Linked DNA regions of Homo sapiens. The protein of the gene in region 2 interacts with the protein of the main gene of each other region in a biochemical or structural test. Each region holds a gene or a part of one and is shown on either strand. Other genes may lie near its edges.

Evidence for each region.
Region 1: the proteins of EHD2 (region 2) and AP1M2 form a complex in vitro, tested with the Homo sapiens proteins (one study listed by BioGRID).
Region 3: the proteins of EHD2 (region 2) and EHBP1 form a complex in vitro, tested with the Homo sapiens proteins (one study listed by BioGRID).

The regions. Positions count from the first base shown.
Region 1 is NC_000019.10:10,570,360-10,579,684, forward strand, and holds the end of AP1M2 (AP-1 complex subunit mu-2), read right to left. Parts: intron 8,605-9,325; coding exon 8,533-8,604; intron 6,998-8,532; coding exon 6,839-6,997; intron 4,671-6,838; coding exon 4,545-4,670; intron 4,134-4,544; coding exon 4,058-4,133; intron 2,730-4,057; coding exon 2,707-2,729; 3' UTR 2,312-2,706; downstream 1-2,311. UniProt on the Homo sapiens protein: Subunit of clathrin-associated adaptor protein complex 1 that plays a role in protein sorting in the trans-Golgi network (TGN) and endosomes.
Region 2 is NC_000019.10:47,721,680-47,732,862, forward strand, and holds part of EHD2 (EH domain-containing protein 2), read left to right. Parts: intron 1-4,132; coding exon 4,133-4,545; intron 4,546-7,244; exon of another isoform or gene 7,245-7,442; intron 7,443-7,733; exon of another isoform or gene 7,734-7,832; intron 7,833-11,183. UniProt on the Homo sapiens protein: ATP- and membrane-binding protein that controls membrane reorganization/tubulation upon ATP hydrolysis. Plays a role in membrane trafficking between the plasma membrane and endosomes. Important for the internalization of GLUT4.
Region 3 is NC_000002.12:62,943,870-62,955,052, forward strand, and holds part of EHBP1 (EH domain-binding protein 1), read left to right. Parts: intron 1-4,390; coding exon 4,391-5,293; intron 5,294-11,183. UniProt on the Homo sapiens protein: May play a role in actin reorganization. Links clathrin-mediated endocytosis to the actin cytoskeleton. May act as Rab effector protein and play a role in vesicle trafficking.

The DNA.
Region 1 (9,325 bases), about 37 Mb from region 2:
CAACATGGTGAAACCCCGTCTCTACCAAAAATATAAAAAATTAGCCGGGCGAGGTGGCGGGCGCCTGTAGTCCCAGCTACTCGGGAGGCTGAGGCAGGAGAATGGCGTGAACCCCAGGGGGCGGAGCCTGCAGTGAGCCGAGATTGCGCCACTGCACTCCAGCCTGGGCGACAGCGAGACTCCGTCTCAAAAAAAAAAAAAAAAAAAAAAAAATTAGCTGCGCCTGGTGGCACGCACCTGTAATCCCAGCTACTCAGGAGGCTGAGACAGGAGAATCGCTTGAACCCAGGAGGCGGAGGTCGCAGGAGCCGAGATCGCGCCATTGTACTCCAGCCTGGGCAACAGAGTGAGACTCTGTCTCAAAAAAAAAAAAAAAAGAAAAGAAAAGAAAAGAAAAAGAAACGCAAAGGCAGGGAGGGCCTCCCTGAAGAGGTGACATTTGATTTGAGACCTAAAGGTGAGGGAGGGAGACTTGTGGTTATATGGGGAAAAGCACACCAGCTGGGAGGCACAGCAGATGCTAAGGCCCAGAGGTGAGAGCGTGCCTGGTGTGGTACAGAGCAGGGGAGAGCAGGTAGGTGGGGTATCAGGATGGCAATTGTGCAAATCAAGCCATGGCTTTTTTATTTATTTATTTATTTTAATTTTTTTTTAATTTTTTTTTTGAGACGGAGTCTCACTCGCCCAGGCCAGAGTGCAGTGGCGCTATCGCGGCTCACTGCAAGCCCCGCCTCCCGGGTTCACGCCATTCTCCTGCCTCAGCCTCCCGAGTAGCTGGGACTACAGGCGCCCGCCACCGTGCCCGGCCTTTTTTTTTTTTTTTTTTTTTTTTTGAGACAGAGTCTTGCTCTGTCGCCCACGCCCGACCAGGCCATGGCTTTAATAAGATAGGAATGCCGAGCGAAGTGGCTCACACCTGTAATTCCAACATTTTGGGAAGCTGAGGCGGGTGGATCACCTGAGGTGGGGAGTTCGAGACCAGACTAGCCAACATGGTGAAATCCCATCTCTATTAAAAAATACAGGCCGGGCGCAGTGGCTCACGCCTGTAATCCCAGCATTTTGGGAGGCCGTGGCGGGCGGATCACGAGGTCAGGAGATTGAGACCATCCTGGCTAATACGGTGAAACACCGTCTCTACTAAAAATACAAAAAATTAGCCAGGCGTGGTGGCGGGCGCCTGTAGTCCCAGCTACTTGGGAGGCTGAGGCAGGAGAATGGTATGAACCCGGGAGGCGGAGCTTGCAGTGAGCCGAGATCACGCCACTGCACTCCAGCCTGGGCGACAGAGCAAGACTCTTGTCTCAAAAAAAAAAAAAAATTAAGCCAGGCGCGGTGGCTCACGCCGGTAATCCTAGCACTTTGGGAGGCCAAGGCGGGCGGATAATGAGGTCAGGAGTTTGAGACCAGCCTGACCAACATGGTGAAACCCCGTCTCTACTAAAAATAACAATAATTAGTGGGGCATGGTGGCGCACGCCTGTAATCCCAGCTACTCAGCAGGCTGAGGCAGGAGAATCGCTTGAACCTGGGAGGTGGAGGTTGCAGTGAGCCGAAATCGCGCCACTGCACTCCAGCCTGGGCGACAGAGCGAGACTCCGTCTCAAAAAAACAAAAACAAAAACAAAAATTAAGCCAGGCGCAGTGGCTCATGCCTGTAATCCCAGCACTTTGGGAAGCCGAGGCGGGCAGATCATGAGGTCAGGAGTTCGAGACCAGCCTGGCCAACATGGTGAAACCGGTCTCTACTAAAAATACAAAAATTAGCTAGGTGTGGTGATGGGCGCCTGTAATCCCAGCTACTCGGGAGGCTGAGGCAGAAGAATCGCTTGAACCCGGGAGGCGGAGGCTGCAGTGAGCCGAGATCGCACCACTGCACTACTCCAGCCTTGGCGACAGACTGAGACTCCGTCTCAAACAAAACAAACAAACAAACAGACAAAAAAAGCCAGGCGTGATGGTGGGCGACTACGACTATAATCCCAGCTACTCGGGAGGCTGAGGCAGGAGAATTGCCTGAACCTGGGAGGCGGAGGTTGCAGTGAGCCGAGATCGCGACACTGCACTCCAGCCTGGGCTACAGTGAGACTGTCTCAAAAAAAAAAAAAGAAAAAAGAAAAAAGGAAAAAAGAAGCGATGCTAACACGCGCCCTCTAGCGGCTACTGGGGGAACAGACCGTGGAGGTGGGAAGCAAAGGCAACAGCAGAGGACCAGGGCCATGACCCGGGACTGAGGAATGGACTGACACGTGTTACCCACTCCCATTGCAGCACTTCAGTAATGTCCCCAAACAAGCACATAGGCAGCGGCTAGATTCATCTTTTTAATGACATCCTAAAATTCAGAGGAGGGGCCAGCGGGACCTCTGGGCTCAGCGGCTGTGAAGGAGGGACCCGCAACACCCGCTAAGGCAGGTAATTGCAAGAAGGCACTCGCGAGGAGGACTTCAAGCCCCTCTTCTATTTCTTCATATAAAATCAGGGGGATGGGGAAAGCTCCAAGGGCGAGGGAAGCAGAGAGAGTTTCTCTCCCAGCCTATGGAATAAGGAAGAGGTGAGGAAGGGGCGGGTGCTGGGAGCAAGAAACTGCCAAGTCCAGGACCTGCCCTCACACAGACACACACAGCCCGCACCTGCCCTCCCTCTAAAATCTGCATCCGGGGCTGTAAGGAAGCCCCGTGTTCAAGCCCCCATCTCTTCTCCCTTCTAGCTGGTACGAAGTTGGTAATCTGCAGAGAAAGAATGAGGAGGGGCCATCTCAGAAATGGGGAGAGGGGGGCCGGGCACGGTGACTCACGCTTATAATCCCAGCACTTTGGGAGGTCGAGGCAGGTGGATCACTTGAGGTCAGGGGTTCGAGACCAGCCTGGCCAACATGGTGAAACCCCATGTCTATTAAAAATACAAAAATTAGCTGGGTATGATGGTGCACACCTGTAATCCCAGCTACTAGGGAGGCTGAGGCAGAAGAATTGCTTGAACCCAGGAGGTGGAGGTTGCAGTGAGCTGAGATTGCGCCACTGCACTCCAGCCTGGGCGACAGAGTGAGATTCCATCTCAAAAAAGAAAAGAAATGGGGAGGGGTGAAGGAAGAGGGACAGCCTCCCACAGCCCCTCAATTCATCCCCTATCCCAGCACTCATGATCAACAAGGCTAAGAATGGGGCTAAACACAGGTACTGTAACCATAGAAACAAGGCAGTTTCCAGGCAGCAGATGGAGGTGCTATATGTTCAGCCCCTTCTCCAAACTCGCGACCACCCTAGAACTGACGCTGACAACTGTCCCTGCTTTTTTTTCCTTTTTTTTTTTTTTTTTTTTTGAGCCAGGGTCTCACTCTTGCCCAGGATGGAGTGCAGTGGTGCAATCACAGCTCACTACAGCCTCGACCTCCTGGGCTCAGGCGATCCTCCCACCTCAGCCTCCTGAGTTGCTGGGACTACAGGTGTGCACATCACACCTGGCTAATTTTTATATTTTTTGTAGTGAAGGGGTTTTGCTGTGTTGCCAAGGCTGGTCTGGAACTCCTGAGCTCAAGCGGTCCTCCCACCTCAGCCTCCCAAAGTGCTGGAATTACAGATGTGAGCCACCACACCCAGCCAACTGCCCCCATTTTAAAGACGTGCAAACCAAGGCCCAGGGTGCCATGACAAGAAGGGGCAGTTTGCTTTCTTTTTCATTTTTTGAGACAGGGTTTCTGTCGACCAGGCAGGAGTGCAGTGGCACGATCTCAGCTCACTGCAACCTCCACCTCCCGGGTTCAAGCAATTCTGCCTCAGCTTCCTGAGTAGCTTGGATTATAGGCATACACCACCACACCCGGCTAATTTTTGTATTTTTAGTAGAAACAGGGTTTCACCATGTTGGCCAGGTTGGTCTCGAACTCCCGGCCTCAAGAGATCCACCCGCCTTGGCCTCCCAAAGTGCTAGGATTACACACCTGAACCATCACACCTGACCCTTGTTGGTTTTCTGAGCCAGAATGTGGTGAAAGCCTCGAGTCCCTACCCACTGCCTTTCCCTCACCCCATTGTCCCCAGGAGCTGGGCTGCCTTACCGCCACTCTGGGTGATGTAGCGAACCCAGGGCAGGGCCTGGTAACCACTTTTCTCAATGATCTTCATGTATCGGACCTGGAAGGGAATGAAAAGAGGTGGTCCAGGATTGCAGGAGGGAGGAGGCCAGGGCCAGGGAGAAAGAGACGGCTTAGGCCAAGCGGCTATGTGGCACAGGCTGGGATCGATGAGGGGATATCACATGGTCTTAGGGGGATGAGGTGGCACAGGCAACGGAATGGTGAATGGCTTTGGAGGTGGAGAAGGGACAGAAGTGAACAAGCCGGTGGGGAACAAGGTGGCACAGGCCGGGGGAGAGGGAGCACAGGCTGTGGGCAGATAAAGGTAACATTGCTCTGGGAAAGACCAGGCAGCCTTCAGAGGAGTGTTGACACAGGCCAGGGGACTGAGGTGACTCGAGCCAAGGGACAGGAGAGAGGGGAACCCACCGAAGTCAAGGGGAGGATCCTCCCTGCCTGCTTCTCTCACCTGGATCCCAGAGACGGTGAAGTAGGGGATCTCAAACTTGACCCCGATGGGGGGCCGGCCCTCCACCTCTTCCTTTTCCACACTGGGGAGGCCAAAGTGGGCTCGCATCAAGTACTCCTTGCCCCCCTGAGGGAACATGGGGGCATCAGGTACACGAGGGTCCGCCTACCCTCCCGAGACCTTCCTTTCAGCAACCCCTGGAGTCAGATCTGCTCACAGCCCATTTCACAGACAGGAAAATAAAGGCTCCTTAGCCTGGGCAACATATTGAGATACCATGTCTACAAAAAGTTTAAAAATTAGCTGGGTGCGGTGGAACATGCCTGCAGTTTCAGCTACTTGGGAGGCTGAGGCAGGAAGATCCCTTGAGTCTGGGAGTTTGAGGCTGCAGTGAGCCATGATCTCACCACTGCACCCCAACCTGGGTGACAGAGACTCACCAGGGAAGATTCTGACTGCAAAACCCAATCAGGGTTTTTTTCTTTTTTTAACTACCATGTCCTGTTTTACAGGCACTGATGATCCACCTCTCCCAAGATCATGGGGACAAACCAAAACCTCTAGTAGCCAAGGGATGTGGGTCACCTCATCCTGCCCATTTCACAGACAGGCAAACTGAGCCTCCTTAAGTGGAAATGGGTTTCCCAAACCCACCCAGCTCAGCAAAGCAATAGTGAGGAAGGTGAACCCAGGGCTGGTTTCCTCAAGACATTGGCAGGGGGATATTTAAATCCACACACTTCCCGTCATGGAAGTTTACACGTCTGTGAAATAGACTGGCCTGGTTTCAAGCTTGATCACTTGCATACATACGTACCTCTCTGATTTACTTGTATTTCTTTTTTCTTTTTTTTTCTTTTTTTTTCTTTTTTTTTTTTTTTGAGATGGAGTCTTACTCTGTCGCCCAGGCTGGAGTGTAGTGGTGCGGTCTTGGCTCACTGCAAGCTCCGCCTCCCAGGTTCACGCCATTCTCCTGCCTCAGCCTCCCGGTAGCTGGGACTACAGGCGCCCGCCACCACGCCCAGCTAATTTTTTTTTTTTTTGTATTTTTAGTAGAGACGGGGTTTCACAGTGTTAGCCAGGATGGTCTCGATCTCCTGACCTCGTAATCTGCCCGCCTCAGCCTCCCAAAGTGCTGGGAATTACAGGCGTGAGCCACTGCGCCTGGCCTTGTATTTCTTTTTTCTAAGTTTTTTTTTTTTTCTTGAGACAGAGTTTCACTCTGTCACCCAGGCTGGAGTGCGGTGGCGTGATCTCAACTCACTGCAACCTCCGCCTCCCGGGTTCAAGTGATTCTCCTGCCTCAGCCTCCTGAGTAGCTGGTACTACAGGCGCACACCCCCATGCCCGGCTAATTTTTTTTTTTTTTTTTTTTTTGAAATGGAGTCTCGCTCTGTCACCCAGGCTGGAGTGCAGTGGCGTGATCTCTGCTCACTGCAAGCTCCACCTCCCGAGTTCAGGCCATTCTCCTGCCTCAGCCTCCCAAATAGCTGGGACTACAGGCGCCTGCAACCACGCCCGGCTAATTTTTTGTATTTTTAGTAGAGATGGGGTTTCACCATGTTAGCCAGGATGGTCTCGATCTCCTGACCTCGTGATCCGCCCACCTCGGCCTCCCAAAGTGCTGGGATTACAGGCGTGAGCCACCGTGCCCTGCCCTAATTTTTGTATTTTTAGTAGAGACGGGTTTTCACCATGTTGGCCAGGCTGGTCTTGAACTTCTGACCTCAGGTGATCTGCCCGCTTCAGCCTCCCAAAGTGCTGGGATTACAGGTATGAGCCACCATGTCTGGCCTTTTAATCTTTTTTTTTTTTTTTTGAGACGGAGTCTCGTTCTGTTGCCCAGGCTGGAGTGTGCAGTGGCACAATCTCAGCTCACTGCAACCTCTGCCTCCCGGGTTCAAGCAATTCTCCTGCCTCAGTGTCCCGAGTGGCTGGGATTACAGGCATGCGCCACCACACCCAGCTAATTTTTGTACTTTTACTAGAGACGGATGTTAGCCGTCTCTATGTTAGCCAGGCTGGGATTTCAGGCGTGAGCCACTGCGCCCAGCTCCTCTTAATATTTTTATAGAGGCAGGGTCTCACTGTGTTCCCCAGGCTGGTCTCCAGCTCCTGGGTTCAAGCGATCTGCCCGTGTCAGCCTCTCAAAGTACTGGCATTCCAGTCATGAGCCATCACACCTGACTGGGTCTCTGATTTGTTCTCTGCCTTGTTCTCATGGCTCCTGGGCAGCCCCCACACTACTCCAGTCCCCTCCACCCCCAGATCCCCCGCCAGTCCCTGGTACTTACCGGGAAAGACTTAATACTCCAAATCACGACGTTTCTCTCCGGCACATACTTGGCGCTGCCCACACTGGTCTTGAATCTGGGGGAGTCGGCATCGCTGGGTACAGGCACAGATATCTCCACACCGTTGGCCACTGACTGTTTCTTAAACTGCCCCTTGGCCTGTCAGGGGAGCGAGCATGGGGCACGAAGAATTCGCTTGCTCATCCTTCAAATATTTACCAAGCCCTTTTTTTTTTTTTTTTTTTTTTTTTTTTGAGACGGAGTCTCACTCTGTCGCCCAGGCTGGAGTGCAGTGGCGCGATCTCGGCTGGCTGTAAGCTCCGCCTCCCAGGTTCACGCCATTCTCCTACCTCAGCCTCCTGAGCAGCTGGGACTACAGGCACCCGCCAGCACGCCCAGCTAATTTTTTTTGTATTCTTAGTAGAGACGGGGTTTCAGCATGTTAGCCAGGATGTTCTCGATCTCCTGACCTCGTGATCCGCCCACCCCGGCCTCTCAAAGTGCTGGGATTACAGGCGTGAGCCACCATGCTTGGCCTTTTTTTTTTTTTTTTTTTTTAGACGGAGTCTCTCTCTGTCACCCAGGCTGGAGTGCAGTGGCACAATCTCCGCTCACGGCAACCTCCGCCTCCTGGGTTCAAGCAATTCTCCTGCCTCAGCCTCCCAAGTAGGTGGGATTACAGGCATGTGCCACCACGCCCTGCTAATTTTGTATTTTTAGTAGAGACAGCGTTTCTCCATGTTGGTCAGGCTGGTCTGGAACGCCTGACCTCAGGTGATCCTACTGCCTCCGCCTCCCAACATGCTGGGATTACAGGTATGAACCACTGCACCCAGCCTGAAGGGGTCATTTTGAATCAGGCAAAGGTGTATGGTGCTGTCCACATGGAAGGCACCAAGAACAGGGCTTCTCGAGCCTCATGGGTGTGGGCCTGAGTTCTAACAGTTGTTGGCTGTGTATCTGCAGGCAAATGCCTTAACTTCTGTGTGCCTCAGTTTCCTCATCTGTAAAATGGACAGGATAAGGGTCCCCACCTTAGGATTGTGGAGGCCTGGGCTGAGAGGGCATATGAAAGGCTTGTTGAAAAAAGCCGGGGGTGGTGGGCCACACCTGTAATCCCAGCACTTGGGGAGATGGAGGCAGGCGTGGCGGCAGGAGCCTGTAATCCCAGCTGCTCGGGAGGCTGAGGTAGGAGAATGGCATGAACCCAGGAGGCAGAGGTTGCGGTGAGCTGAGATCACACCACTGCACTCCAGCCCGAGTGACAGAGGGAGACTCTTTCTCAAAAAACAAACGAACAAACAAACAAAAAAACCCTTCAGTCCATCACAGGAGAGTTATTATTTTATTTGATAACAGATTTTTTTTTTCTTTTTTCTTTTTGGAGATGGGGTCTAGCTCTGTCATCCAGGCTAGAGTCCTTGTCTCACTACAACCTCCTCCTCCTGGACTCAAGCAATCCTCCCACCTCAGCCTCCCAACTAACTGGCACTACAGGCACTCACCACTTTACCAGGCTAATTTTTGTATTTTTTGTAGAAACAGGGTTTCGCCCTGTTGCCCAGGCTGGTCTCAAAGTCCTGGGCTTAAGTGATCTAACCACCCCGGCCTCCCAAAGTGCTGGGATTACAGGTGTGAGCCACCGCACCCACCCGAGATCATGCATTGTTAATAAGCATTCCCCCAAGGCCCACCTTGACCATGATCTCCACGCGGCTGTGGGAGAACTTCTCAATGACAGACTCAATCCAGATCAGTGGCTTGACCTGTGGGAAGAAGAAGGGGAGAGTTCTTGGAGACTCCATGTTGACTCTCTTCTTTTTTTTTTTTTTTTTTTCTTTCTTTGAGACAGAGTCTCGCTTCTTCGCCCAGGCTGAAGTGCCATGGCGTGATCTTGGCTCACTGCAACCTGCACCTCCTGGACTAAAGCAATTCTCGGCCGGGAGCGGTGGCTCACGCCTGTAATCCCAGCACTTTGGGAGGCCAAGGTGGGCGGATCACGAGGTCAGGAGATCGAGACCATCCTGGCTAACACGGCGAAACCCCGTCTCTACTAAAAATGCAAAAAATTAGCTGGACACGGTGGCATGCGCCTATAGTCCCAGCTACTCGGGACGCTGAGGCAGGAGAATGGCGTGAACCTGGGAGGCGGAGCTTGCAGTGAGCCGAGATAGCGCTACTGCACTCCAGCCTGGGTGAAAGAGCCAGACTCCGTCTCAAAAAAATAATAATAATAAAAATTAAAAAAAACAAATAAAGCAATTCTCCTGCCTCAGCCTCCCCAGTACCTGGGATTACAGCATGTGCCACCATGCCCAGCTAATTTTTGTATTTTTAGTAGAGACAGGGCTTCACCCTGTTGGCCAGGCTGGTCTCGAACTCCTGTCCTCAAGTGATCCACCCGACTCAGCCTCCAAAATTGTTGGGATTACAGGCGTGAGCCACTGCGCTGGGCCCAGGGTCGCTCTTCAGCCTACCCCAACCTAC
Region 2 (11,183 bases):
TTACCTGCAAAATGGGAATAATGGGCTGGGCGCAGTGGTTCACGCCTGTAATCCCAGCAGTTTGAGAGGCCAAGGTGGGCAGATTACCTGAGGTCAGGAGTTCGAGACCAGCCTGGGCAACATGGTGAAACCCTGTCTATACTAAAAATACAAAAATTAGCTGGGTGTGGTGGTGCTTGCCTGTAATCCCACCTACTCGGGAGGCTGAGGCAGAAGAATTGCTTGAACCCAGGAGGTGGAGGTTGCAGTGAGCCGAGCTCATGACACTGCACTCCAGCCTGGGCGATAGAGTGAGACTTGGTCTCAAAAATAAACAAACAGAAAAACAAAACACACACACACACACACACACACACACACACACACACACACACACACTGGGAATAATAATACTAGCGGCCTCATAGTTGTCCTAAAGGTTAAATTAGTTAAAACATACAAAGCACTTAGAAGGTGCACACTTGTGTGTGCACACAGTAGGCGCTATGGAAGTGCCAACAATGCCTGTTTTCGCTGGGTGAGTGCCGTTGTGGGCCCAAGGTTCCTTTTTGCCACGTCTCCCATCCCACACTGACTCAACCTCTCTCCCTTCTTCCCTCCCCGCCCCATGAGACACACTTTCCGAATCTGGGCCAGTATGTGTGTTTGTGGAGACACCGGGAGGGAGGGGGGGCTCCAGTTGCTGTCCCTCCAGTGACTTGGCCCTTCCTCCCCCAAAACAACGGCCCCCAACCCCATCCCGGTCCCTGCGTTGCCCGCAAGGAGGCTGCTTCCTCTCAGGCAGGATGGGTGCAAGCACCAGCTCCCCGGAGGAGCATAGGGGCCCATGGGACTCCTCTTCTGTCGCCTCTTACCTGTGTGTCTTGAGTAAGTCCCCTAACTTCTCTCTCTTTTTTTTTTTTTGAGACGGAGTTTCGCTCTTGTTGCCCAGGCTGGAGTGCAGTGGCAGGACCTTGGCTCACTGCAACCTCCGCCTCCTGGGTTCAAGTGATTCTCCTGCCTCAGCCTCCCGAATAGCTGGGATTACAGGTGCCCACCACCACACCCAGCTAATTTTTTTGTATTTTTAGTGGAGACGGGGTTTCACTATGTTGGTCAGGCTGGTCTCGAACTCCTGACCTCAGGTGATCCACCCGCCTCAGCCTCCCAAAGTGCTGGGATTGCAGGCGTGAGCCACCACGCCTAGCTAGTCCCCTAACTTCTCTGTGCCTCAGTTTCCTCATCTGGAAAATGGGGTCAGAACAGTGCCCACCTCCTGGGGTTGTTGTGAAGAGTCACTGAGTGAGCTCTAGCTGGAGGGCATGAAGTCAGTAAATCAGGGCTAGCTCCTTGTTCTGCCAGTTAACTCTTCGTCCTCCGGGTTCCCACTCTGCCTTCCCTCCTCCTGGAAGTCCTCCTTGACCCCCAGGCTGGGGGTTGGGTCAGGCACTGGCCCTGGGCTCCCACAGCTCCCTGGATCCCCCTGCCCACCCTGGGCTGACCACTCAGGGGCCAGGTCTGTGTCCCCAGTGGGCTGAGAGATGTAAGGACAAAGCTGAAACTGCCTCAGCCTCCACACACACAGCAGGGACCACAGAGGGTGCTTCCCAGTGGGTGACATCACCATGACTTGCTGAGTGCTTACCGTACATCCAGCACTGTTTTTAAAAAAACAGTTTCATTGAGGATTAACGTACACGCCATAAAAACTCAACCATTATGGCCGGGCTCAGTGGCTCATGCCTGTAATCTCAGCACTTTGGGAGGCTGAGGTGGGCGGATAATGAGGTCAAGAGATGGAGACCATCCTGGCCAACATGGTGAAAACCCATCTCTACTAAAAATACAGAAATTAGCTGGGTGTGGTGGCACCTGTAATCCCAGCTACTCGGGAGGCTGAGGCAGGAGAATTGCTTGAACTCGAGAGGCAGAGGTTGCAGTGACCTGAGATCGCGCCACTGCACTCCAACCTGGGCGACAGCGAGACTCCGTCTGAAAAAAAAAAAAAAAAAAAAGCTCAACCATTTTTTTTTTTAAAGAGACAAGGTCTTGCTCTGTCTGCAGGCTGGAGTGCAATGACGCAATCATGGCTCACTGCAGCCTCCAACTGCTGGGCTCAAGTGATCCTCTTGCTTCCTCCTCCTGAGTAGCTGAGACTACAGATGCATGCCAACATGTGTGGATAATTTTTTATTTTATTTTTTTCTGTAGAGACAGGGTCTTGTCATCTTGCCCAGGCTGGTCTCAAACTCCCAGGCTCAAGCGATCCTCCTGCCTCTACCTCCCAAAGTGCTGGGATTACAGGTGTGAGCCACTCTGTCTGGCCACTTCCATCATTTTTAAATGTACAGTTCAATGCCAGGCATTATTTTAAGCTCTTTATATATATTAGCTCATTTATATTCTTTTAATCTTCACAACAGTCTTTTTTTTTTTTTGAGACAGAGTCTCACTCTGTCGCCCAGACTGGAGTGCAGTGATGCTATCTCGGCTCACTGCAACCTCTGCCTCCCAGGCTCAAGCGATTCTCGTGCCTCAGCCTTCTGAATATGTGGGACCATAGGCATGAGCCACCAACACCGGGCTAATTTTTTTGTATTTTTAGGGCTAGGCTGGTCTTGAACTCCTGGCCTCAATTGATCTGCCCACTTCAGCCTCCCAAAGTGCTGGGATTACAGGTTTGAGCCATCACACCTGGCTTCACAACAGTCCTATGATTTGCATTTTACAGAAAAGAAAACACAAGTTCAGAGAGGTTAAGCTACTTGCCTAAGGTCACACAGTGGATGGGGGCAGAGGAGGGACTCAACTCCAGGTCTTCCAGACAGCTAAGTCAGGGGGTCTCAATCGCTTCTCTCTGCTCTCCTCAGCATTGCTTGTTGGTGAATAAATGAGTGAAGAAGCAAAGGTGAGAATGAGTGGATGAAGGAGTGAATGAGGAAATGAATGGTGAAAGGAATGAATGAATGAGCATGGGAACCCATGGCTGGGATGGGTGCTTCATAAGAGCAAGAATCTTGTCTGTGTGTTCTCTGCGGTATCCCAGGCTCCCAGGACAGGGCTTGGCACACATGAGACTCTCAGTAAGTATTGCTAAATAAATGCAAAATATTTAACTTCTCAGCCTGGCCAACATGGTGAAACCCCGTCTCTACTAAAAATACAGAAATTAGCCAGGGTGGTGGTGCATGCCTGTAATCCCAGCTACTCGGGAGGCTGAGGCAGGAGAATTGCTTGAACCTGGGAGGTGGAGGTGGAGGTTGCAGTGAGCCACATTCATGCCACTGCACTCCAGCCTGGGCGACAGAGTGAGACTCTGTCTCAAAAAAAAAAAAAAAAAAAAAAAAAAAAAAAAAAAAAATTATCATCTGCTATGGCAAGAGCACAGCTATCCAGCATGAACTCTAGTTGCTGGATCGTGGGGAGATACAACAGGTCCTGGGGAGGAGCTGGGGTGATAGAGGCATGTGGCAGGCTTGGGGGTTCCATAGAAGCACAGGGGGATCTCTTAGCAAACATGTCAGTATTTTTAACAACCTATATGTACATACCGACGCACACCTGTAATAACTGCTTAATGAATGAGCAAATGAAAAAATGGAGGCCGTGAGGCTGGGCGCGGTGGCCCACGCCTGTAATCCCAACATTTTGGAGGCTGAGGCAGGAGGATCAGTTGAGCTCAGGAGTTTGAGACTAGCCCGGCAGCCCGGGTAACATAGTGAGATCCCATCTCTACTCAAAAAAAAAAAAAAAAAAAAAAATTAGCCAGGTGTGGTGATGCGCGCCTGCAGTCCCAGCTACTAGGGAGGCTGAGGTGGGAGGATCACCTGAGCTCCGGGAAGCAGAGGTTGCAGGGAGGCGTGATCCCGCCATTGTGCTCGAGCAAAGGAAAAGGGGGATGATTGCCCCCTGTAGCCAGATGGCTTGAGGGGCTGGGGCCAGAGCGAGGGGGGAAATTCTGGGCACTGGAGAGCCAGAGCAGTAGTGCCCACTGAGGGCCTTGGCTATTTTGCCCAGACAGGATTTGGACAGCCAACAACGTGAACATCTTTACAGTCCAATATGCAAGAGAATGGGATACTACTGAGAATGGCTGGAGGGTGGGGGTCTGATTTCTGCCCCTTGCGCCCCTGTCTCTCCACTCCCACTCCAGGCTACGACTTCCCGGCCGTGCTGCGCTGGTTCGCGGAGCGCGTGGACCTCATCATCCTGCTCTTTGATGCGCACAAGCTGGAGATCTCGGACGAGTTCTCAGAGGCCATCGGCGCGTTGCGGGGCCATGAGGACAAGATCCGCGTGGTGCTCAACAAGGCCGACATGGTGGAGACGCAGCAGCTGATGCGCGTCTACGGCGCGCTCATGTGGGCGCTGGGCAAGGTGGTGGGCACGCCCGAGGTGCTGCGCGTCTACATCGGCTCCTTCTGGTCCCAGCCCCTCCTCGTGCCCGACAACCGGCGCCTCTTCGAGCTGGAGGAGCAGGACCTCTTCCGCGACATCCAGGGCCTGCCCCGGCACGCAGCCTTGCGCAAGCTCAACGACCTGGTGAAGAGGGCCCGGCTGGTGCGAGTGAGTAGTCCTGAGGGCTGGGCGCGCATTCTTGGAGGAGGTTTCCTCGGTCCTCTCCTACCAGTGCTGTGAGTCCCTGACTTATCAGGGCCCAGGTTAGTTAGTTCTCTTGAAGTTGGGTCATTCTGGCACAGAGTGAAGCCGGGAGGAAGAACTGTATGGAGAGACTCATTCCTCTGCCTTTGGATTTCTGTGTCAACTCCGTGTCACCCTGGCTTCTCTGTCCTGGTATTTCTATTTCTTCTTCCTCTTCCTCCTCCTCCTCCTTCTCTTCTTCTTCTTCCTCTTTTTCTTCTTTCTTCTCTCTTTCCTCCTCCTCCTCTTCTTCTCCCTCCTCCTCCTCCTTCTTCTCTTTCTTCCTCCCCTTCCTCCTTCCTTCCTTCCTTCCTCTGTTCCTCTCTCCCTTCCTCCCTCCTCCCTTCCTCCTTCCTTACATCCTCTTTCGTTCCCTCTTCTTCCTTCTTTTTTAAGAGATGGAGTCTCGCTCTCTTGCCCTGGCTGGAATGCAATGATGCAATCACAGCTCACCACAGCCTTGAACTCCTGGGCTCAAGTGATCCTTCCTCCTTAGCCTGCCCCAAGTAGCTGAGACCACAGGCACGTGTCACCACGCCCAGCTAATTTTTTATTTTTTGTAGAGTCGAGGTCTTACTGTGTTGCCCAGGCTGGTCTTGAACTCCTGCCCTCAAGTGATCCTCCCCTTTTGGCCTCCCAAAGTGCTGGGATTGCAGGCATGAGTATGTTGAATTTTTGAACTTCCTATAAAATATAGACAGACAAATACTCATTATTCTACCCTCTTTATTTTTTGATAATTTATAAGATTGTGGTTCAAAGGTTTCCAAGTTCATTGGTTTATTCCACAAATATTTCTTTTTCTTCTTCTTTTCTTTTTTTGAGACGGAGTTTTGCTCTTATTGCCCAGGCTGGAGTGCAATGGCGTGATCTCGGCTCACCACAACCTCCGCCTCCTGAATTCAAGCGATTCTCCTGCCTCAGCCTCCCGAGTAGCTGGGATTACAGGCATTCACCACCATGCCCGGCTAATTGTGTATTTTTAGTAGAGTATTTTTAGTTGGTCAGGCTGGTCTTGAACTCTCAACCTCAGGTGATCCGCTCTCCTTGGCCTCCCAAAGTGCTGGGATTATAGGCGTGAGCCACCGCGCCAGGCCCACAAGTATTTCTGGAATGCTTTCTGTACACATGGTGCTGGGGCTGGGGATGGAGGGAACAGACAAGGTTCCAGCCCTCCTGGGGCTCATCTTTTTTTAAATTTAATTAATTAATTTATTTATAAGCTAGTCAAATTTAGCAGTGGGGGTGGGGAGTTGCATGCCAACTTTACTGACACTAATAAGTTCTGATAACCAAGGCCAGGTGCGGTGGCTCACGCCTGTAATCCCAACACTTTTGGAGGATTGCTTGAGCCCAGGCATTGAAGACCAGCTTGGGCAACATAGTGAGACACCATTTCTATTAAAAAAAAAAAAAAAAGTTCTGATAACCCACTACCATTGGACCAGCCCCGGGGCTTATCTTTTGATGGAGGGAGACAGAATAAGTAAACAGACATAAAATAACAATGAAGGCTGGGTGCGGTGGCTCACGCCTGTAATCCCAACACTTTGGGAGGCCGAGGGGGGAGCAGATCACTTGAGGTCAGGAGTTCGAGACCAGCCTGGTCAAGATGGTGAAACTGCGTCTCTACTAAAAATACAAAAATTAGCCAGGTGTGGTGGCGGGCACCTGTAATCCCAGCTACTTGGGAGGCTGAGGCATGAGAATCACTTGAACCCGGGAGGCAGAGGTTGCAGTGAGCTGAGATTGTACCACTGCACTCCAGCCTAGGCGACAGAACGAGACTCTGTCTCAAAATAAAAAAAAAAAAAAAGATGAATTTATTACATCTTAGGCGCTTCACAGCACCCGTCTCCCATGACTCTTGTTTGATTGTGGCCACAGATTGTCCCCTTCTCTCACTCCTTTCCTCTGTCCTCATCTCCCATTCCCTTCCCAGCGTCCCCTGCACTTCACGCTGGTGGCCTCAGTCCTGTGCACTTGCTGCTCCCTCTTCCTGGAAACCTCTTCTGCCTTCTTCCCCCTCCCACCTGGCCATCCACAAGGCTCACTCCCTCCTCACCCCTTTCAAGACTCTGCTCAAATGCTCCCTTCTCAGGAAGGCTGTCCATGCCCTCCTTTGAATGAATATAACTTCCCCCATATGCGTCCTTCTTTACCCTAACCCTGTTGTCCTTTCCTTTCCTTTCTTCTCCTCTCCTCTCCTTTCTCTCTTTCTCTGTTTCTCTTTCTCTCTTTCTTTCTCTTTCTCTTTCTTTTTCTTTCTTTCTTTTTTTTTTTTTTTGAGACAGGGTCTCCCTCTGTTGCCCAGGCTGGAGTGCAGTGGTGCGATATCAGCTCACTGCAACCTCCACCTCCCGGGTTCAAGCGATTCTCCTGCCTCAGCCTCCTGAGTAGCTGGGGTTACAGGCGTGTGCCACCACACCCAGCTAATTTTTTGTATTTTTAGTGGAGACGGGGTTTCACCATATTGGTCAGGCTGGTCTCGAACTCCCGACCTCAGGTGATCCGCCCGCCTTGGCCTCCCAAAGTGCTGGGATTACAGGCGTAAGCCACCACACCCAGCCAATCAGGGCTCTTTGAATTCCTTCACTGATTTATCCCCAGTGCCCGGAACAGAATTGGTGCTCTGTAAATATTTATTGAATGAATGACATTGAACAAACAGTTGCATTGAACAAAATCTCCTCTATGCCTGGCCTGGTGTTGGGTGGTGCAGGAGACACAACAGTGACCACGATGGTTCCAGTCCTGTCCTGCTGGGGCTCCCAGTCCTAAATAATGAAGGCAGTTCCAGGGCTCAGTCCTCACTGGGGCTCCTGGAGAGGAGACAGATCCATCCCCAGGCACCGATGACCCAGTGTGGTCAGAGCTGGGGCGGGGTAGCTGGGGCAGGCAGAGAGGGCTTCTTTGGAGGAGAGGGCATCTGAGGGGAAATGTCAGTGTTGAACCCAGTGTAGACAGTGTGCTAACTCAATTAGAGGCTGAGGATGTGGCTGAGATCAGAGGTGGTGTGGGCTGTGTCCGGGAATCTGTGCTTTGTCCCTAGGGCACTGGGGAGCCATGAAAAAGTTCGGAGCAGGGAAAGGAGATAATTAGACTCAAGCTACCTTTTGGAGGGTGGATTCAAGGCAGGAGAGTCTAGGAGCCTGGAGACCAGGCAAAAGGCTTGGAGGTTCCTGGATCAGGACAGGCCTTGGGGAGGGAGAGGAGAAAGGAGAGCGCGGGTTTCAGAGCGATTTTGGATGTCAGATGGAACTTTCTCAGGGGGAGGCTGCCAGGGTGGAGGCGGGGCAGGAAGCTGGGCAGGCAGGGAGGCCAAGAAGGTTCTAGGGGGTGGAGGAGCCTGAGGTGTTGGTTTAAGGAGCAGCGAGAGTGGGTGAGTCAGAGCCCCCACCCCCACCCCAGGAATCCTCCTTCGGAGGGAGCGGCCCACTGTGGACCAGGCTGCCACTCCTGGAACCTTCGGAATTCACCTTGCGCTCCTCTGCCCAGGCGGCTCTGCAGTGTCTCTCTCTCTCTTTTTCTGTCTCTATGTCAGTCTCCTTTCTACCTCTCTCTCAGTCTCTTTCTTCTCCATTTTTACTTTTTCTTTTATTCTAACTCCCTTTCCTTTTCTTTCTCGCTCTGCCTCCTCCTGTCTCTCCATCTCTCCCCCGCTCCGCCGCCGCCCTCTCTCTGTCTTCCTCCTGGTCTTGCTTAGACTCCCCCAGGTTCGTTCCCGCGGGTCCCTTGGCGGGAGCTGGAGCACAAGGCCCAGGGACAGAGGGGTGGGTCCGGGCCAGACACCTGGTGCCCCCGCCGGGCTGGGGGCGGCTCCGGAAACCCAGACAAACCCCGGAGTCAGGGACCCAGCCCCGGCCCAGCCCGCCCTCTCACCTTATCTCTTCCTGGCACCTTCCCCTGCTTCCTCTCTGGAAAAGCCATCAGCGCCCTCCCGCCTACCCTCCTTTGGTCCCTACGGAGCCGCCCTTCGGCCCTGCCCCCTGGCTCCATTGGCCCGCTCTCACAGGCCCCGCCCCCAGCCCGGCCACACCCCTGCCCTGATTGGTCCTTCAGACCATTAGGCACTCCCTCCCCCTCTTCCTGCAGGTTCATCCATGGCTCCCCAGTGCCGTTCAGGACACAGGAGCATGGGATTTAGGGTCCGCTGTGACCAAGGCTCACTGCCCCTCCTTTGCCCCGTGTCGCACCCCCACCCCTGCTCCTCACATATGAGTCCGCCACACTTGGTCGTCACCAACAATAGCCATACTGTTAACCTCCCCTCATGCTCTCCTCCAAAGATACCAGGCCTTCCTGGACTCTCTGGGAGGAGGCATTCACCCTCCTCCCAGTGCCTCAGTTTCCCATCTGTACGATGGAGGGTGTGGACGAATCCTCTGGCTCTAAGTCCTTTGGCTGAAGTGATAGCTGTTAGAAGGGGAGATTTTATGATGCTGTGATACGTAAGGCCAAGATCTTGGGAGGGTCTGATTCTATAGACGCCAAGATGCCCTGAACCTTCAGACCACATTCTCTGCAGTGGCCCAGTGACATTCATTCAGCAGTTGCCGATCGCATGTGGTACTCCTCTAGGCTCTGGGGATACAGCAGGGAACACAGATAAATTCCTTTTCTCATAGAATTACTTTTTAGTGGGGAAGCAAACATTAAACAAATCAATGGTTATGAAGAAAAATGAAGCGGAGGAAAGAGGGGCTGGCGAGGGACTATTTTAGAGCGCTCTGAAGGAGAGGAAGGGGTAAGAGGAAGGGGTGAGCCGAGTGGCGATCGGGTGGAAGAGCAGTCCATGCAGTGAGAACAGCATGTGCAAAGGCCCTGGGGCAGCCATGCACTTGATGTGTTTGAACTGAGAGCCTAACGGGGCTGGAGACAGGGTGGTGGTGGAAGGTGGAAGAGATGAAGATTTAGAACCAGTCAGGGACCACCAACGTTCTCAGCAGTCTAAATTTGTGATTCTTTAAAAAAAAAAAAATATATATATATATATATATATACATATATATATAATTTTTTTTTTTTTAGATGGAGTCTCTCTCTATCACCCAGGCTGGAGAGCAGTGGCATGATCTCGGCTCACTGCAACCTCTGCCTCCCAGGTTAAAGTGATTCTTGTGCCTCAGCTTTCCGAGTAGCTGGGACTCCAGGCAGGTGCCACCACACCTGGCTAATTTTTGTATTTTTAGTAGAGATGGGTTCTCACCATGTTGGCCAGGCTGGTCTCGAACTCCTGACCTCAGGTGATCCGCTGGCCTCGGCCTCCCGAAGTGTTGGGATTACAGGCATGAGCCACTGTGCCTGGCCTAAAAGAATTTTTTAACTAGTCTTTTTTATTGAACATTTAAGACCATCTCATGGAAAGGCATTCATACTTTATCAGACATGATTCTCCCACACCTCACCCCACCAGCTCCCAGGGCCTCTTTTCTAGAGGCAACCCCCATAAGTAGTTTCTTGTGTGTCTTTCCAGATATACTGCATTTTTTTTTTTTTTTTTTTTGAGACGGAGTCTCGCTCTGTCGCCTAGGCTGGAGTGCAGTGGCATGATCTCGGCTCACTGCAAGCTCCGCCTCCCGGGTTCACGCCATTCTCCTGCCTCAGCCTCCCGAGTAGCTGGGACTACAGGTGCCTGCCACCACGCCTGGCTAATTTTTTGTATTTTTAGTAGAGGCGGGGTTTCACTGTGTTAGCCAGGATGGTCTCGATCTCCTGACCTCATGATCCGCCTGCCTCTGCCTCCCAAAGTGCTGGGATTACAGGCGTGATATACTGTAATCACGCCCGGCCAATATACTGCATTTTGTAAAAGCATTTATTTATTATTATTTTGTTTTGAGACTGAGTCTCACTCTGTCGCCCAGGCTGGTGCAATGGCACGGTCTCAGCTCACTGCAACCTCCACCTCCCAGGTTCAAGTGATTCTCCTGCCTCAGCTTCCCATGTAGCTTGGATTATAGGTGGGCACCATCAGCCCGGCTAATTTTTGTATTTTTAGTAGAGATAGCATTTCACCATGTTGTCCAGGCTGGTCTCTAACTCCTGACCTCAGGTGATCGACCCGCTTCAGCCTCCCAAAGTGCTGGGATTACAGGCGTGAGCCACCGCGCCTGGCCTATTTATTCATTTTTTTAGAGACAAAGGCTCGCTGTGTCGCCCAGACTGGAGTGCAGTGGCGACATCATAGCTCACTTCAGTCTCAAACCTCTGGGCTCAAGTGATCCTCCCTCCTCAGCCCCGGCAATTCACTGGGACTATAGGCGCGCGCCAGTACACCCAACTAGTTTTAAAATTTTTTTTTAGAGACCAAGTCTTGCTATGTTGCCCAGGCTGGTCTCGAACTTCTGGCCTCAAGTGATCCTCCCCCCTTGGCTTCCCAAAGTGCTGGGATTATAGGCATGAGCAATATTTAATTTGTGAGCTTCCTATAAAATATAGACATACCAATATTCATTATTCTGCTCTCCTTGTTTATTTTTCGATAATTTATAAGATTGTGGACCAGGTGTGGTGGCTCACACCTGTAATCCCAGCACTTTGGGGGACCAATGTGGGCGGAT
Region 3 (11,183 bases), on a different chromosome or scaffold from region 2:
AAAAATACGTAGTTTCAATTTTGGCTTCTCTGCAGGTCTTTATTAATTTGGAGAAAGTGAGGCAGTTTTATGAGGTCATAACTACAACTCACAGAGGGTTGTCTGCTTACTGCGGTTCATTAGGATACATGGTTTACTCTGGTTTATCATGGACTTTTAAAGACCACAAGTGCCAGGTTGGCATCATATTATAATATGCATATTATCTTTTTAACTGTTGAATATTTGTTAAAGCATAGTGCTTTTTTTCTAAGATTTAGCTTTTTAAAAATGCACCCAAAACTGTTGTGCCATAGTTGTTATGTAAGTTTAGAAAATATGCTGGTTGGGGATGAGAACGAGAGCCTAATGGTAAGCAAGAGAGAATACTTAGGTTCTGAGAGGCAAAAATATATAAACCTTGGTTCTTTTCATTTTCTGGTAAACCGTATACAGTTATTGCGCTGCAAAACAACATTTTGGTCAAAAACAGACCACATAGATGGTGATGTACCGTAAGATTATAATACCTCATTTTTACTGTACCTTTTCTATGTTTAGATACACAAATACCATTGTGTTACAATTACCTACACTATTCAGTATAGGAATATGCTGTGCAGCTTTGTAGCTTAGGTATAGCCTAGGTATGTAGTAGGCTGTACCATCTAGGTTTGTGTAAGTACCCACTGTGATGTTTGCACAACAACAAAATCTCCTGACAATGCATTTCTCAGCATATATCCCCATTGTTAAGCAACACATGACTATATTTTCCCACATAATTAATCAATATATTGAGATCAGAACTTCCCAACTGGTATGGGGCAAGGGGATATCGATCCTTTCAGCTTTCAGGGCATCTGTGTAAGGCTGAGTTGCTGGAGCCCTGGGCCAGCTAACTGTGGCCACAGGCTGACTTATCTGTTTACCCCAGCACACAGTATGTGCATTCTGTGTGCAAAGAGGGAAGCACCTAACTCAGCACACAGTAGGCACTGAATGCTTTTTTCTACTGAATTGAATTCTTCAACTGAAAAATTAATGAAATTTATTATTGTCTTAGAACAGGAGTTCTTAACCTGTGAACTGTGGGTAGAAATCAGGGTGTCCTTGAACATGGTTGAGGGAAAAAATACATTTTACTTTCATAATTCCTCATCTGAAATTTAGCATTTCCTTCAATTATGAATTTAGGCAATAAACCACCATAGTGTTAACCATGCCTGAGACTTTGTCACCTTTAGAAATCACAGATATTTTCGATATTTTCATGTCATGCTATAGTTGTTGCTGCAGATATCTGCAAATACCTTTTACACTTATAACTTCTTCAAAATAATTAGTGCAGTCATAAAAAGCACATATATTACTACTTCCCAAATTCATTTTAAGTAATACTTTCATAGGTGTATTTTTCAGTATAATTGATGTCTTTTGTAATTCTATGTATTTTATCCATGTAAAACATTATTCTGAGAAGGGACCCATTGCCAAAAGGGTTCATGAGACAAAGTGGTTAATAACCTCTAGTCTAAAGTTTTTAACATACTTTAAATTAAATAATTAAAATTACTAGTGATACAAAGTCTTGGGACCTTGATAGAAGTTCAATTAACAAGTCTTTAAATCAAAACAATTTTTCACTTGTATTGCTCTCTAAAACCAAAAATGTGTATTGCTATCAAAAAGATTTTGTTTCTTCAGCCTGGGGAATGTAGCAAGACCCCATCTCTACAAAAAATGAAAATGTTAGCTCAGCATGGTGGCATGCACCTGTAGTCCCAGCTACTTGGGAGGATGAGGTGGGAGAATCGCTGGAGCCTAGGAGCCCGAGGCTGCAGTGAGCTAGCATCATGCCACTGCTTTCCAGCCTGGGTGACAGAGCAAGACCCTGTGTCCAAAAACAAACAAACAAACAAAAAAATGGTTGTTTTTTCACAAATGCATAATGCTGGCCGTAGAGCAATAAAAACCTGGCAGTCTCTATTGAAATATGCCACCAAAAAAAAGATAATCTTTAAAAATCAGTATAGTTTTCTTACAGAAATTACCCTTTGGATGGGCATGTTACAAAGTAAACTGTTCTCATGAATTAATTCTTGTATAATTTTGGAGAGCCTGTGTCTATTAAAGTGAAATGCTTCTTTTTCATTAATTACAATTAAATTATATCTTTGGGTGTGGCAGTGCTTTACCTCCATTTTCTTACATTTGAACAAAGTGGTAAGCCAATTTAAATACAGACATGAGCATTATAAAATAAACCATTTTTTAAAGTGGATGTTTCAACTTACTGTTCAAAATTTTGAAAAAGAAATATTGTTGATTTTACCTCATTATAAATGTGTAAAGAATATAGGGAATCTCAGTAAGGCTTAAGTCACACTTCTTTACATTAGCTTTTCATTAACTTAATAATGGTAAGCATACTTTGGATTTACATATTACTCCATACAGAAGACTGTCCCATTAAAATTTTTTTTCAATTAAATCTTCCAGTACAGACAATCATGGCTTTTGAAAGGCTTTATCTTTGATGATTCTATTCATTGTATTATTCAATAAATAATTGTTTTTACATAGTCTTTCCTTTCATCATTTGCTACTTCTTACCTGATAGCTACATTGAGTTGCTACCTGCAAATTACTTCTAGCTTCACACATTTCTTCCCAATAACCCATGTGCCCTTGAATGGACTTAAAGCACCATAGGAAAACAATGCCTGTGTCTTAAATTTCATACAGATGCATAACATAACTGGCAGTAACTCCTCCTTACCAATTTAATAACATCTACAAATGAATAAGATAATTTTCTTAGAAAGACCTCTTTTTTCACCTCACACAAACAGGTGAAAAACAGTAGGTAGTTAGTTGACCATGGCAGAAGAGGTTAACCTATGGGAAAAGTCCTTTATAAAGCCTTAACCTTGCTTAAAAGAAACCTAGTTTGTTTTTAAATGTTTTTTTAGTGTAATTAGTGTACATAAAATGAATTGCTACATGAAGCAAAACACCAGCAGGAGTTTCCCCACAAGGAAGCTAATCATTTTCCTGGGTCTGTAAAAAGTGCTGAATAAAAAAAGGCATTTTCCTGTGACATCTGATCTTAACCAATATGTCAGTGTTTTTAGATAATTTGGGAATGTTTAGAATACTGCCTGTGGTGCTTTCCCTGATGGCCTGCAATTGATGCCTGTCAGTCAAGTTGTCAAGACACATGAAAAGGAAAATGACTTCAATTTTCCTAAAACATGTAAAATAACAAACCAAGCCTATACATGCACACCAACTGAGTCATTCTCTCTAGTAAATATTTTGAGGTACCTATATTATGAAGCCTAGTGCTGTGAAAATTGAAGAGGTTTTAATATCACAATTTATTTTTCATTTTCTTTCTTACTTGTTCCATAATGTTTGTTAAACTACAAGAATATGAGACAAAGATTAAATTCAAACATAGCAATGTACTTTAACAAGTAAGTACAGAAGACTGATTCATTCTCAATTGTTACATAATTTCCTAACATGTCTTTTAAGAAAAACTTTGAATTATAATCCTTAATCTAGGTTGCTAAAAAGAGTAAACATTTTACATCCCAGAGCAAGAATATATCTAGACGGTTCTTACTTTCTCTGAGAGTATATCTAAACCTTTAGCCATACTTTTAATGCTTCCTAGCAACACAATGCTGTTTTCAAGGGTTAGTTCAGGATAGTAATAATTAATTGTAAATTGAGAAACAGCTTAGATTATTCAAAACTAGAAAAACCTGATGTGCCACAGTCATTTAAAGGCTAACAAAAATAATACAATGCAGCCTCACATTCTCAACTAGGTTGTAGTACTCAAAACATTTCATTCTTTCCAAAATGAATGAATTAAATGAAGTCACTCTTTTCATTATGAAAATCAGTCTTAATTGAGCATTTAAAAATGTTTCTGTTTCTAGGCTTAAATTGCATTTATTTGTATTTTATATCAGGTAATCTAGTAGTTCTTTTGACTTATCTAGCTGTGCTTTTCTTCACAAATCACTGCAATTACATGACTGTGGAAAAGAGAGGTTGATAGAAATGATAAAGCTCAATATGGATTAGTCTAATGTTTCTTTATACTTTAGTTCCTTATCTTAAAAATCCATTCTCAGAGTTTTAAAAAATTTAACTCTCATTTTTGCTTGTTTCATTTATTGGAAAAAATATTTTAATTCTTATTTATTACACTTTTTTCTCTTGCCTCTCCCCCCACTTTTACACATGTCTGACTTTTGGAAATTTGTTCTTTTCATGTGACATAATGTCGATAACATGTACCCAAACAACAAAAATTAAAAATGTGCTCTTTTTAAAATGTGTGAATTATATGAACTGTTCAATATATCTTTTGTTTTTCCTTCCTTTGAAGGCATACGATGGATTTGCCAGCATAGGAATTTCCCGATTATTGGAACCTTCTGATATGGTATTATTAGCAATTCCTGATAAACTGACTGTTATGACTTATCTCTATCAAATAAGGGCACATTTCAGTGGCCAAGAACTAAATGTCGTTCAGATAGAGGAAAACAGCAGTAAAAGCACATATAAAGTTGGAAACTATGAAACAGATACAAACAGTTCTGTTGATCAAGAAAAATTCTATGCAGAGCTTAGTGATCTGAAGCGGGAGCCTGAACTACAACAGCCTATCAGCGGAGCAGTAGACTTCTTATCACAGGATGACTCTGTATTTGTAAATGATAGCGGGGTTGGAGAGTCAGAAAGTGAGCATCAAACTCCTGATGATCACCTTAGTCCAAGCACAGCCTCCCCTTACTGTCGCAGGACTAAAAGTGACACAGAACCCCAGAAGTCTCAGCAGAGCTCTGGAAGGACTTCAGGATCTGATGACCCTGGAATATGTTCCAATACAGATTCAACCCAAGCACAGGTTTTGTTAGGCAAAAAGAGACTATTGAAAGCTGAGACTTTAGAATTGAGTGACTTATATGTTAGTGATAAGAAGAAGGATATGTCTCCACCCTTTATTTGTGAGGAGACAGATGAACAAAAGCTTCAAACTCTAGACATCGGTAGTAACTTGGAGAAAGAAAAATTAGAGAATTCCAGATCCTTAGAATGCAGATCAGATCCAGAATCTCCTATCAAAAAAACAAGTTTATCTCCTACTTCTAAACTTGGATACTCATATAGTAGAGATCTAGACCTTGCTAAGAAAAAACATGCTTCCCTGAGGCAGACGGAGTCTGATCCAGATGCTGATAGAACCACTTTAAATCATGCAGATCATTCATCAAAAATAGTCCAGGTAAGTGAGTTAGAATGCTGAATACTATATTTAGTAATTAGTTATTCTCTGTTTTTGTTTCTTTTTGCATTCATAGATGCTACAAATGATTAAAGGTGAAGTGTAATTTCTATTATAAAAACTCCTGAGGCATGTAGTAATGTGTGCCTAAGTCCCCACTATTTGGGAGGCTGAGGAAAGAGGATTGCTTTGGCCTAGGAGTTTGAAACCAGCCTGGGTAACATAGCGAGTCCCTGTCTCAAGAAAAGAAAAACCTGAAATATACCTGCTGTATATTTAAGGTTTATGATATAATATTTTAAGCCTAAAAATCCCAATTTCAACACTGAAGGATATTGTGTAATAAGGCTATGAGAAAAAAATTGAAGGATAAAGAATGTCAACTTTTCAAATAAAAATATTACTTATAAAAACAATATTCTACTATAAAATAAATCAAAGATGTTTCAATATTCCATTTAATAAGAACATCATTCTAAAAATGTATAATGCCAAATTAAATATTTCCCATTTAAAACATTTTCCTTAGGTATTTTAGTTGGTTTATTTAGTCCCATCATTACTTGTGGTTAAAAATCCCTGCAGCATCCAAATTTCTCCTCATGAAGGGAATACTGTACGGTTTTAACCTTTCTCTTACTGATGATATTAATAATTTACTGTTTTTACTTGTATCTCTGGTACCATCAGTTATAAGATATACTAATATTTTATGTACCACAACAAAAAAGAACAACATTGTCAATAAAGTTATGATACCTGGTTTTCCTATCACTCAGAATTTTTATAGCTATTGAAAGAGCTCTTTTAGACTTATTTAGGCATAGATTATTTGATCAGATAACACTCGTGTATATATAAGGAGGAAATTTTAGGCAAAATAAATTGATTAAGGTATTCCTAAAAGTTTTTCACATTTAGAATCCAGCTCTTCTGAATCACTTTTTGATTTAGAGTTGTTGGTATTCCTTTTTTTTTTTTCTGCACAGTTATCCTCTGTGCCATCAAAAGCATTGTTACAGTAAATGGTTCTCAAAGCCAGATTTGGGGGCCTCTGAAGTTCTCCAAGTCCCTTTCAGAGAGCCCCCAAAGTTAAAGCTATTTTCATAATAATACTAGGGCATTGTTTGCCTTTATCACTCTCATTCTCTCACAAGAGTATGATGGCATTTTCTGGAAGTTACATGATTTGTGATATCTCAACAGATTGAATACAAAAGTAGATATAGGAATTCAGCTGCTTTCTTTTATATTGAGATTTACAAAATATGTAAAATACTGCCACCCTTCTCAATTTTTGTTTTTAAAGTAATTATTTTCTATTAAAATGTGTTAACATCTAATGAGTTCATTGTGGCTACTTCTAAATGAAAAAAATATTTTAAAAATATATCAGTTTTAATATCAAAAATGACAAATATCAGTAGATACAATCTGTATAAGCAAGAGTTTTTTGGGATCCTCAATAATTTTTAAGCATATATGGGGATTTCGAGACCAAAAAATTGGGAAATCTCTGAGTTGTTTTTTCTTTTTTTTTGAAACAGAGTTTCACTCTTGTTGCCCAGGCTGGAGTGCAATGGTGCCATCTTGGCTTACCACAACCTGTGCCTCCCAGGTTCAAGCAATTCTTCTGCCTCAGCCTCCCGAGAAGCTGGGATCACGGGCATGTGCCACCACACCCGGCTAATTTTGTATTTTTAGTAGAGACGGTGTTTCTCCATGTTGGTCAGGCTGGTCTCAAACTCCTGACCTCAGGTGATCCACCCGCCTTGGCCTCCCAAAGTGCTGAGATTACAGGTGTGAGCCACCGCGCCCGGCCCGAACCTCTGAATTTATAGCATTTCTCCACAACTGTCTCTGGGATTTTCTTCCAAGTCAGTATACTGATTGATAATGGCACTTTCTTGGCTTTACCAGAAGGTTTCAACAGAAGATTTTTAGACAGTAATCTGGAGTTATGTTTCTTTCTCAAATAGTCCTCAAGTGGTGTTGACTGAAACATCAAGGAATTGCCATCATGCCAACTGAAATATCAAACAATATACGTATAGGTAGACAACCATGTCTTAACTGCCACCTGGATGACAGAGAGTGTAAGATTCTGCCATTTATAAGTTTTCAGAGGTGTCAAGAAAGAATTTATATCTTAGAATTAAAGAAATATAATAGCTGCCAAAGCAAGCCCCTGTTCTCCTAATCATAAACCTCAAATCAAAAGTCCTAAGTAGCTAAATCTCTCTGAAAGCTTTCAGGACAGCATATGTCCACACATAGTAGATAATCAATAAACATCTAGTGATTGACAATTTCAAGAACTTGATGACCCTAAATTGTCATATTCAATACAAATTTTTCTTTTTTTTTTTTTTGGGGGGGGGGGGTGGAGTCTTGCCCTGTCACCCAGGCTAGAGTGCAGTGGCGTGATCTCACCTCACTGCAACCTTCTCCTCCCGGGTTCAAGTGATTCTCCTGCCTCAGCCTCCCGAGTAGCTGAGACTACAGGTGTGTACCACCATGCCCAGTTAATTTTTGTATTTTTAGTAGAGATGGGGTTTCACCACATTGGCCAGGCTGGTCTCGAACTCCTGACCTCAGGTGATCCTCCTGCCTCAGTCTCCCAAAGTACTGGGATTACAGGTGTGAGCCACCGCGCCTGGCCAGATTTTTCTTGAAAACCAGATTTTTAAGGCAAATATGTTTAGTTAAAACTAGGAATTGATTGATGTTTAAAATTTTAAAATACCCTGGACTGGGAATCAGTAAGCCTGGAATCTCGTTTTGACTCTCCCAATAAATTAGTAGTGTGACATGTTAACTAGCCATTTAGCCTCTCTCGATCTTATTTTCCATGTATGTTAAATGAAGCAATCTTTAAGAACCCCTTTAGCTGTGAAACTATCATTCTGTGATTCTATTCAGATGATTAAAGTGTACTGGATGATAGAAGCAATGTCTATTCATAGCTCCATGTATGTTTTCTCTTTGGCCATTGGCTTATTCAGAATTTTTCTTGGGGTAAGTTTAAAGGTTTTTATTGACACTGGATTGGCAAAAGTAATGTCTAACAATAAACACTGTAATATAGGTGCTGACATTTGGTAGGCTTTTAAAATTGTATATAGCAGCTGAATTTTGGACAATTAAAAATCTGTTTCTCTTTTGTACAAAGTATTTCAATTCTCAGATACACATCTTTTTACATTTTAACTTCTCCGAAATCAATATATTATTTATAATAGATAGTGTATTAGAGTTTAATTGACAGCGTTTGTTCTTTCTTAGTAGTTCATAAAATAATAGTAACTCTTACAATTAAGACCATTGGATTAGAGGAAATTTAGTAACTTTAATATGGCTTTATATACTTAACAAAGTCATAATGTTGTCCATTTGGGTGCCTAATACATGTGATGACAGTTATATATCTTACACCTATCTCTTAGACTTTACAACTCATAAGGTAAGTAGTCAAATTCTATATTATATGTGGGAAATCTGAGGTTTGCAGAGTTACTTAAGATTACATGATAAATGTTAAAGTTTGAATTCAAAAGCAACCTTGTCTTCAAAGTCTGTGCTTCTCCACTTGATGCTTATAACATCTTTATTTACCATAATAGCATTAAAAAATAATCGTAGCCCAAATATAATGTGGTCAACATTACTGAAGGGCAATTTAACAATGTGAATCAAATTCCTTAAAAATCTTTATCTCATTACATCCTACTTTCAGGAATTTTTCCTAAGGAAATAATTAGAATTGTATAATATGGCCGGGTACCATGGCTCACTCCTGTAATCCCAGCACTTTGGGAGGCCAAGGCGGGTGGATCACCTGAGGTCGGGAGTTTGAGACCAGCCTGACCAACATGGAGAAACCCTGTCTCTACTAAAAATATGAAATTAGCCAGGGTGGTGGCACATGCCTGTAATCCCAGCTACTCGGGAGGCTGAGGCAGGAGAATTGCTTGAACCCGGGAGGCGGAGGTTGCGGTGAGCCGAGCTGGCGCCATTGTACTCCGGCCTGGGCAACAAGAGCGAAAGTCCGTCTCAAAAAAAAAAAAAAAAAAAAAAAAGGTATAATAAAAATTTACTTCTAAAGATATTCATAAAAGCATTATTTATGATAGTAAAAAATTGTGTGCAACCTAAATGTTCAGCAAAATAAGACAAGTTAACTAACGTATGATGCATCTATACAATATAATGTTAGGTAGCCAATTAAAAATCAAGTTTTAGGCTGGGCATGGTGGCTCACCTGTAATCCCAGTACTTTGGGAGGCTGAGGTAAGAGGATCGCTTGGGCCTGAGAGGTCAAGGCTGCAGTGAGCTGTGATCATGCCATTGGACTCCAGCCTCGGTGACAGAGTGAGACCCTGTCTCAAAAAAGTAAAATAATAAAATAAAATAATAAAAAAATTATGTTTAAAAAACATTTAAGACCATGAGAAAATGCTCAAAATAGAATAAGTGAAAAAAAAAGCATGATTCTACAGTTATTATCTCTGGGTACCAGGACTACTACTAATGTTTATTTTTTTCTTTTTAACTTGTATTTATTTTCTGAAATCTCTGTAGTGAATTGCATTTCTAGCCAGGAAAATTAAAAAAAAACTGTGTTTATGTGCTGTTAAACACAATTGGTGATTTTATAATCTTTTGGTGATTTGATTTTGGTCTTAAGACCAAAACATCTTTTCACTGTCCATGTAGCTGGTTGGAATTACCAAAAGACTATAAAATCACAGAATTTAGAGCTAGTGAGATCTTAAAGATGATCCCTCATTTCAAAGATTAGGAAATCAAGGGATTAAAACAAGTAGTTAATGTTTATTCAGTGCTTGCCATGTGCCAGTGCTCAGTACATTATGCTATTATTTAATCTTTGCCCTGTCCTTCTGAGAGTTGGTCTATTTCTATCCTTATTTTATAAATGAGGAAACTGAGGCTTAGAGAAATTAACTTGCCCATAATTAAGTGGTGGAACTGATATTTGAACCCAGGTCTGTCTGACTCCACATCATGTAATGGAATGCAGTAAGTTTTTAACTGACCTGCTCAATGTTACATTGCTTATTATTAGTGGGAGAGGGATTAACAGCCTGATGTCTTGACTGAAAATTCAGTGTTCATTTAATTAATTTTGTCTGTTTTTGAGACACTGTTGATATTGTAACTAAATTCTATTGTGTCCTATTCAACATGAACTTAGACTTATCGTTATCACTTATACATTTTATTTGTATCTATTAAGTTAAGAATTTTTGTTTAATCCTCTTAAAAATCTTTGGGTGATGAAAATGTCCTGGAATTAGGTAGTGGTGATAGTTCATAACCTTATGAAATACTAAAAACCACTGAATTGTACACTTTAAGAAAAATCTTTTCTTCTTTAAGTTTATAGAAAAAAAGGCTTTAAAAAATAGTTGTAGTAAAATATAAAGACCACAAAGAAGCCCAAAAATGCTGAACTAATCTTAAAAAAGATGGTTTCACATAATATGAAATAAAGTAATAGCTACACTTATTTTCTTTTCCTTGACAGTGATACTTATGATTGAACCAAAACTATGCAATGAAAGGGAAGTAAAAGAAATTAAGTATCTGATAATAGTAATAGACATCTAAAGCCAGAAGTTGGTTACTTAGTAGAAAAAAAAGGAATTTGGACTATAAGGAGTATGAATATTTGTGCTTTTGGTTTAAGAACTGATCTCTGTTGATGGACAGTATCTGTTGTTCTCCAAAATTACATTGTAAAATTACAGATTAATCCAGGAGAATACTTTTTCAATTCTAATATTTTCAATTGTTTTGTTATAAGGATAGTGAGCAATGGGGAAGACTAGTTTTACTTTTTTTTAATGAAATATAATAGCTTTGAATT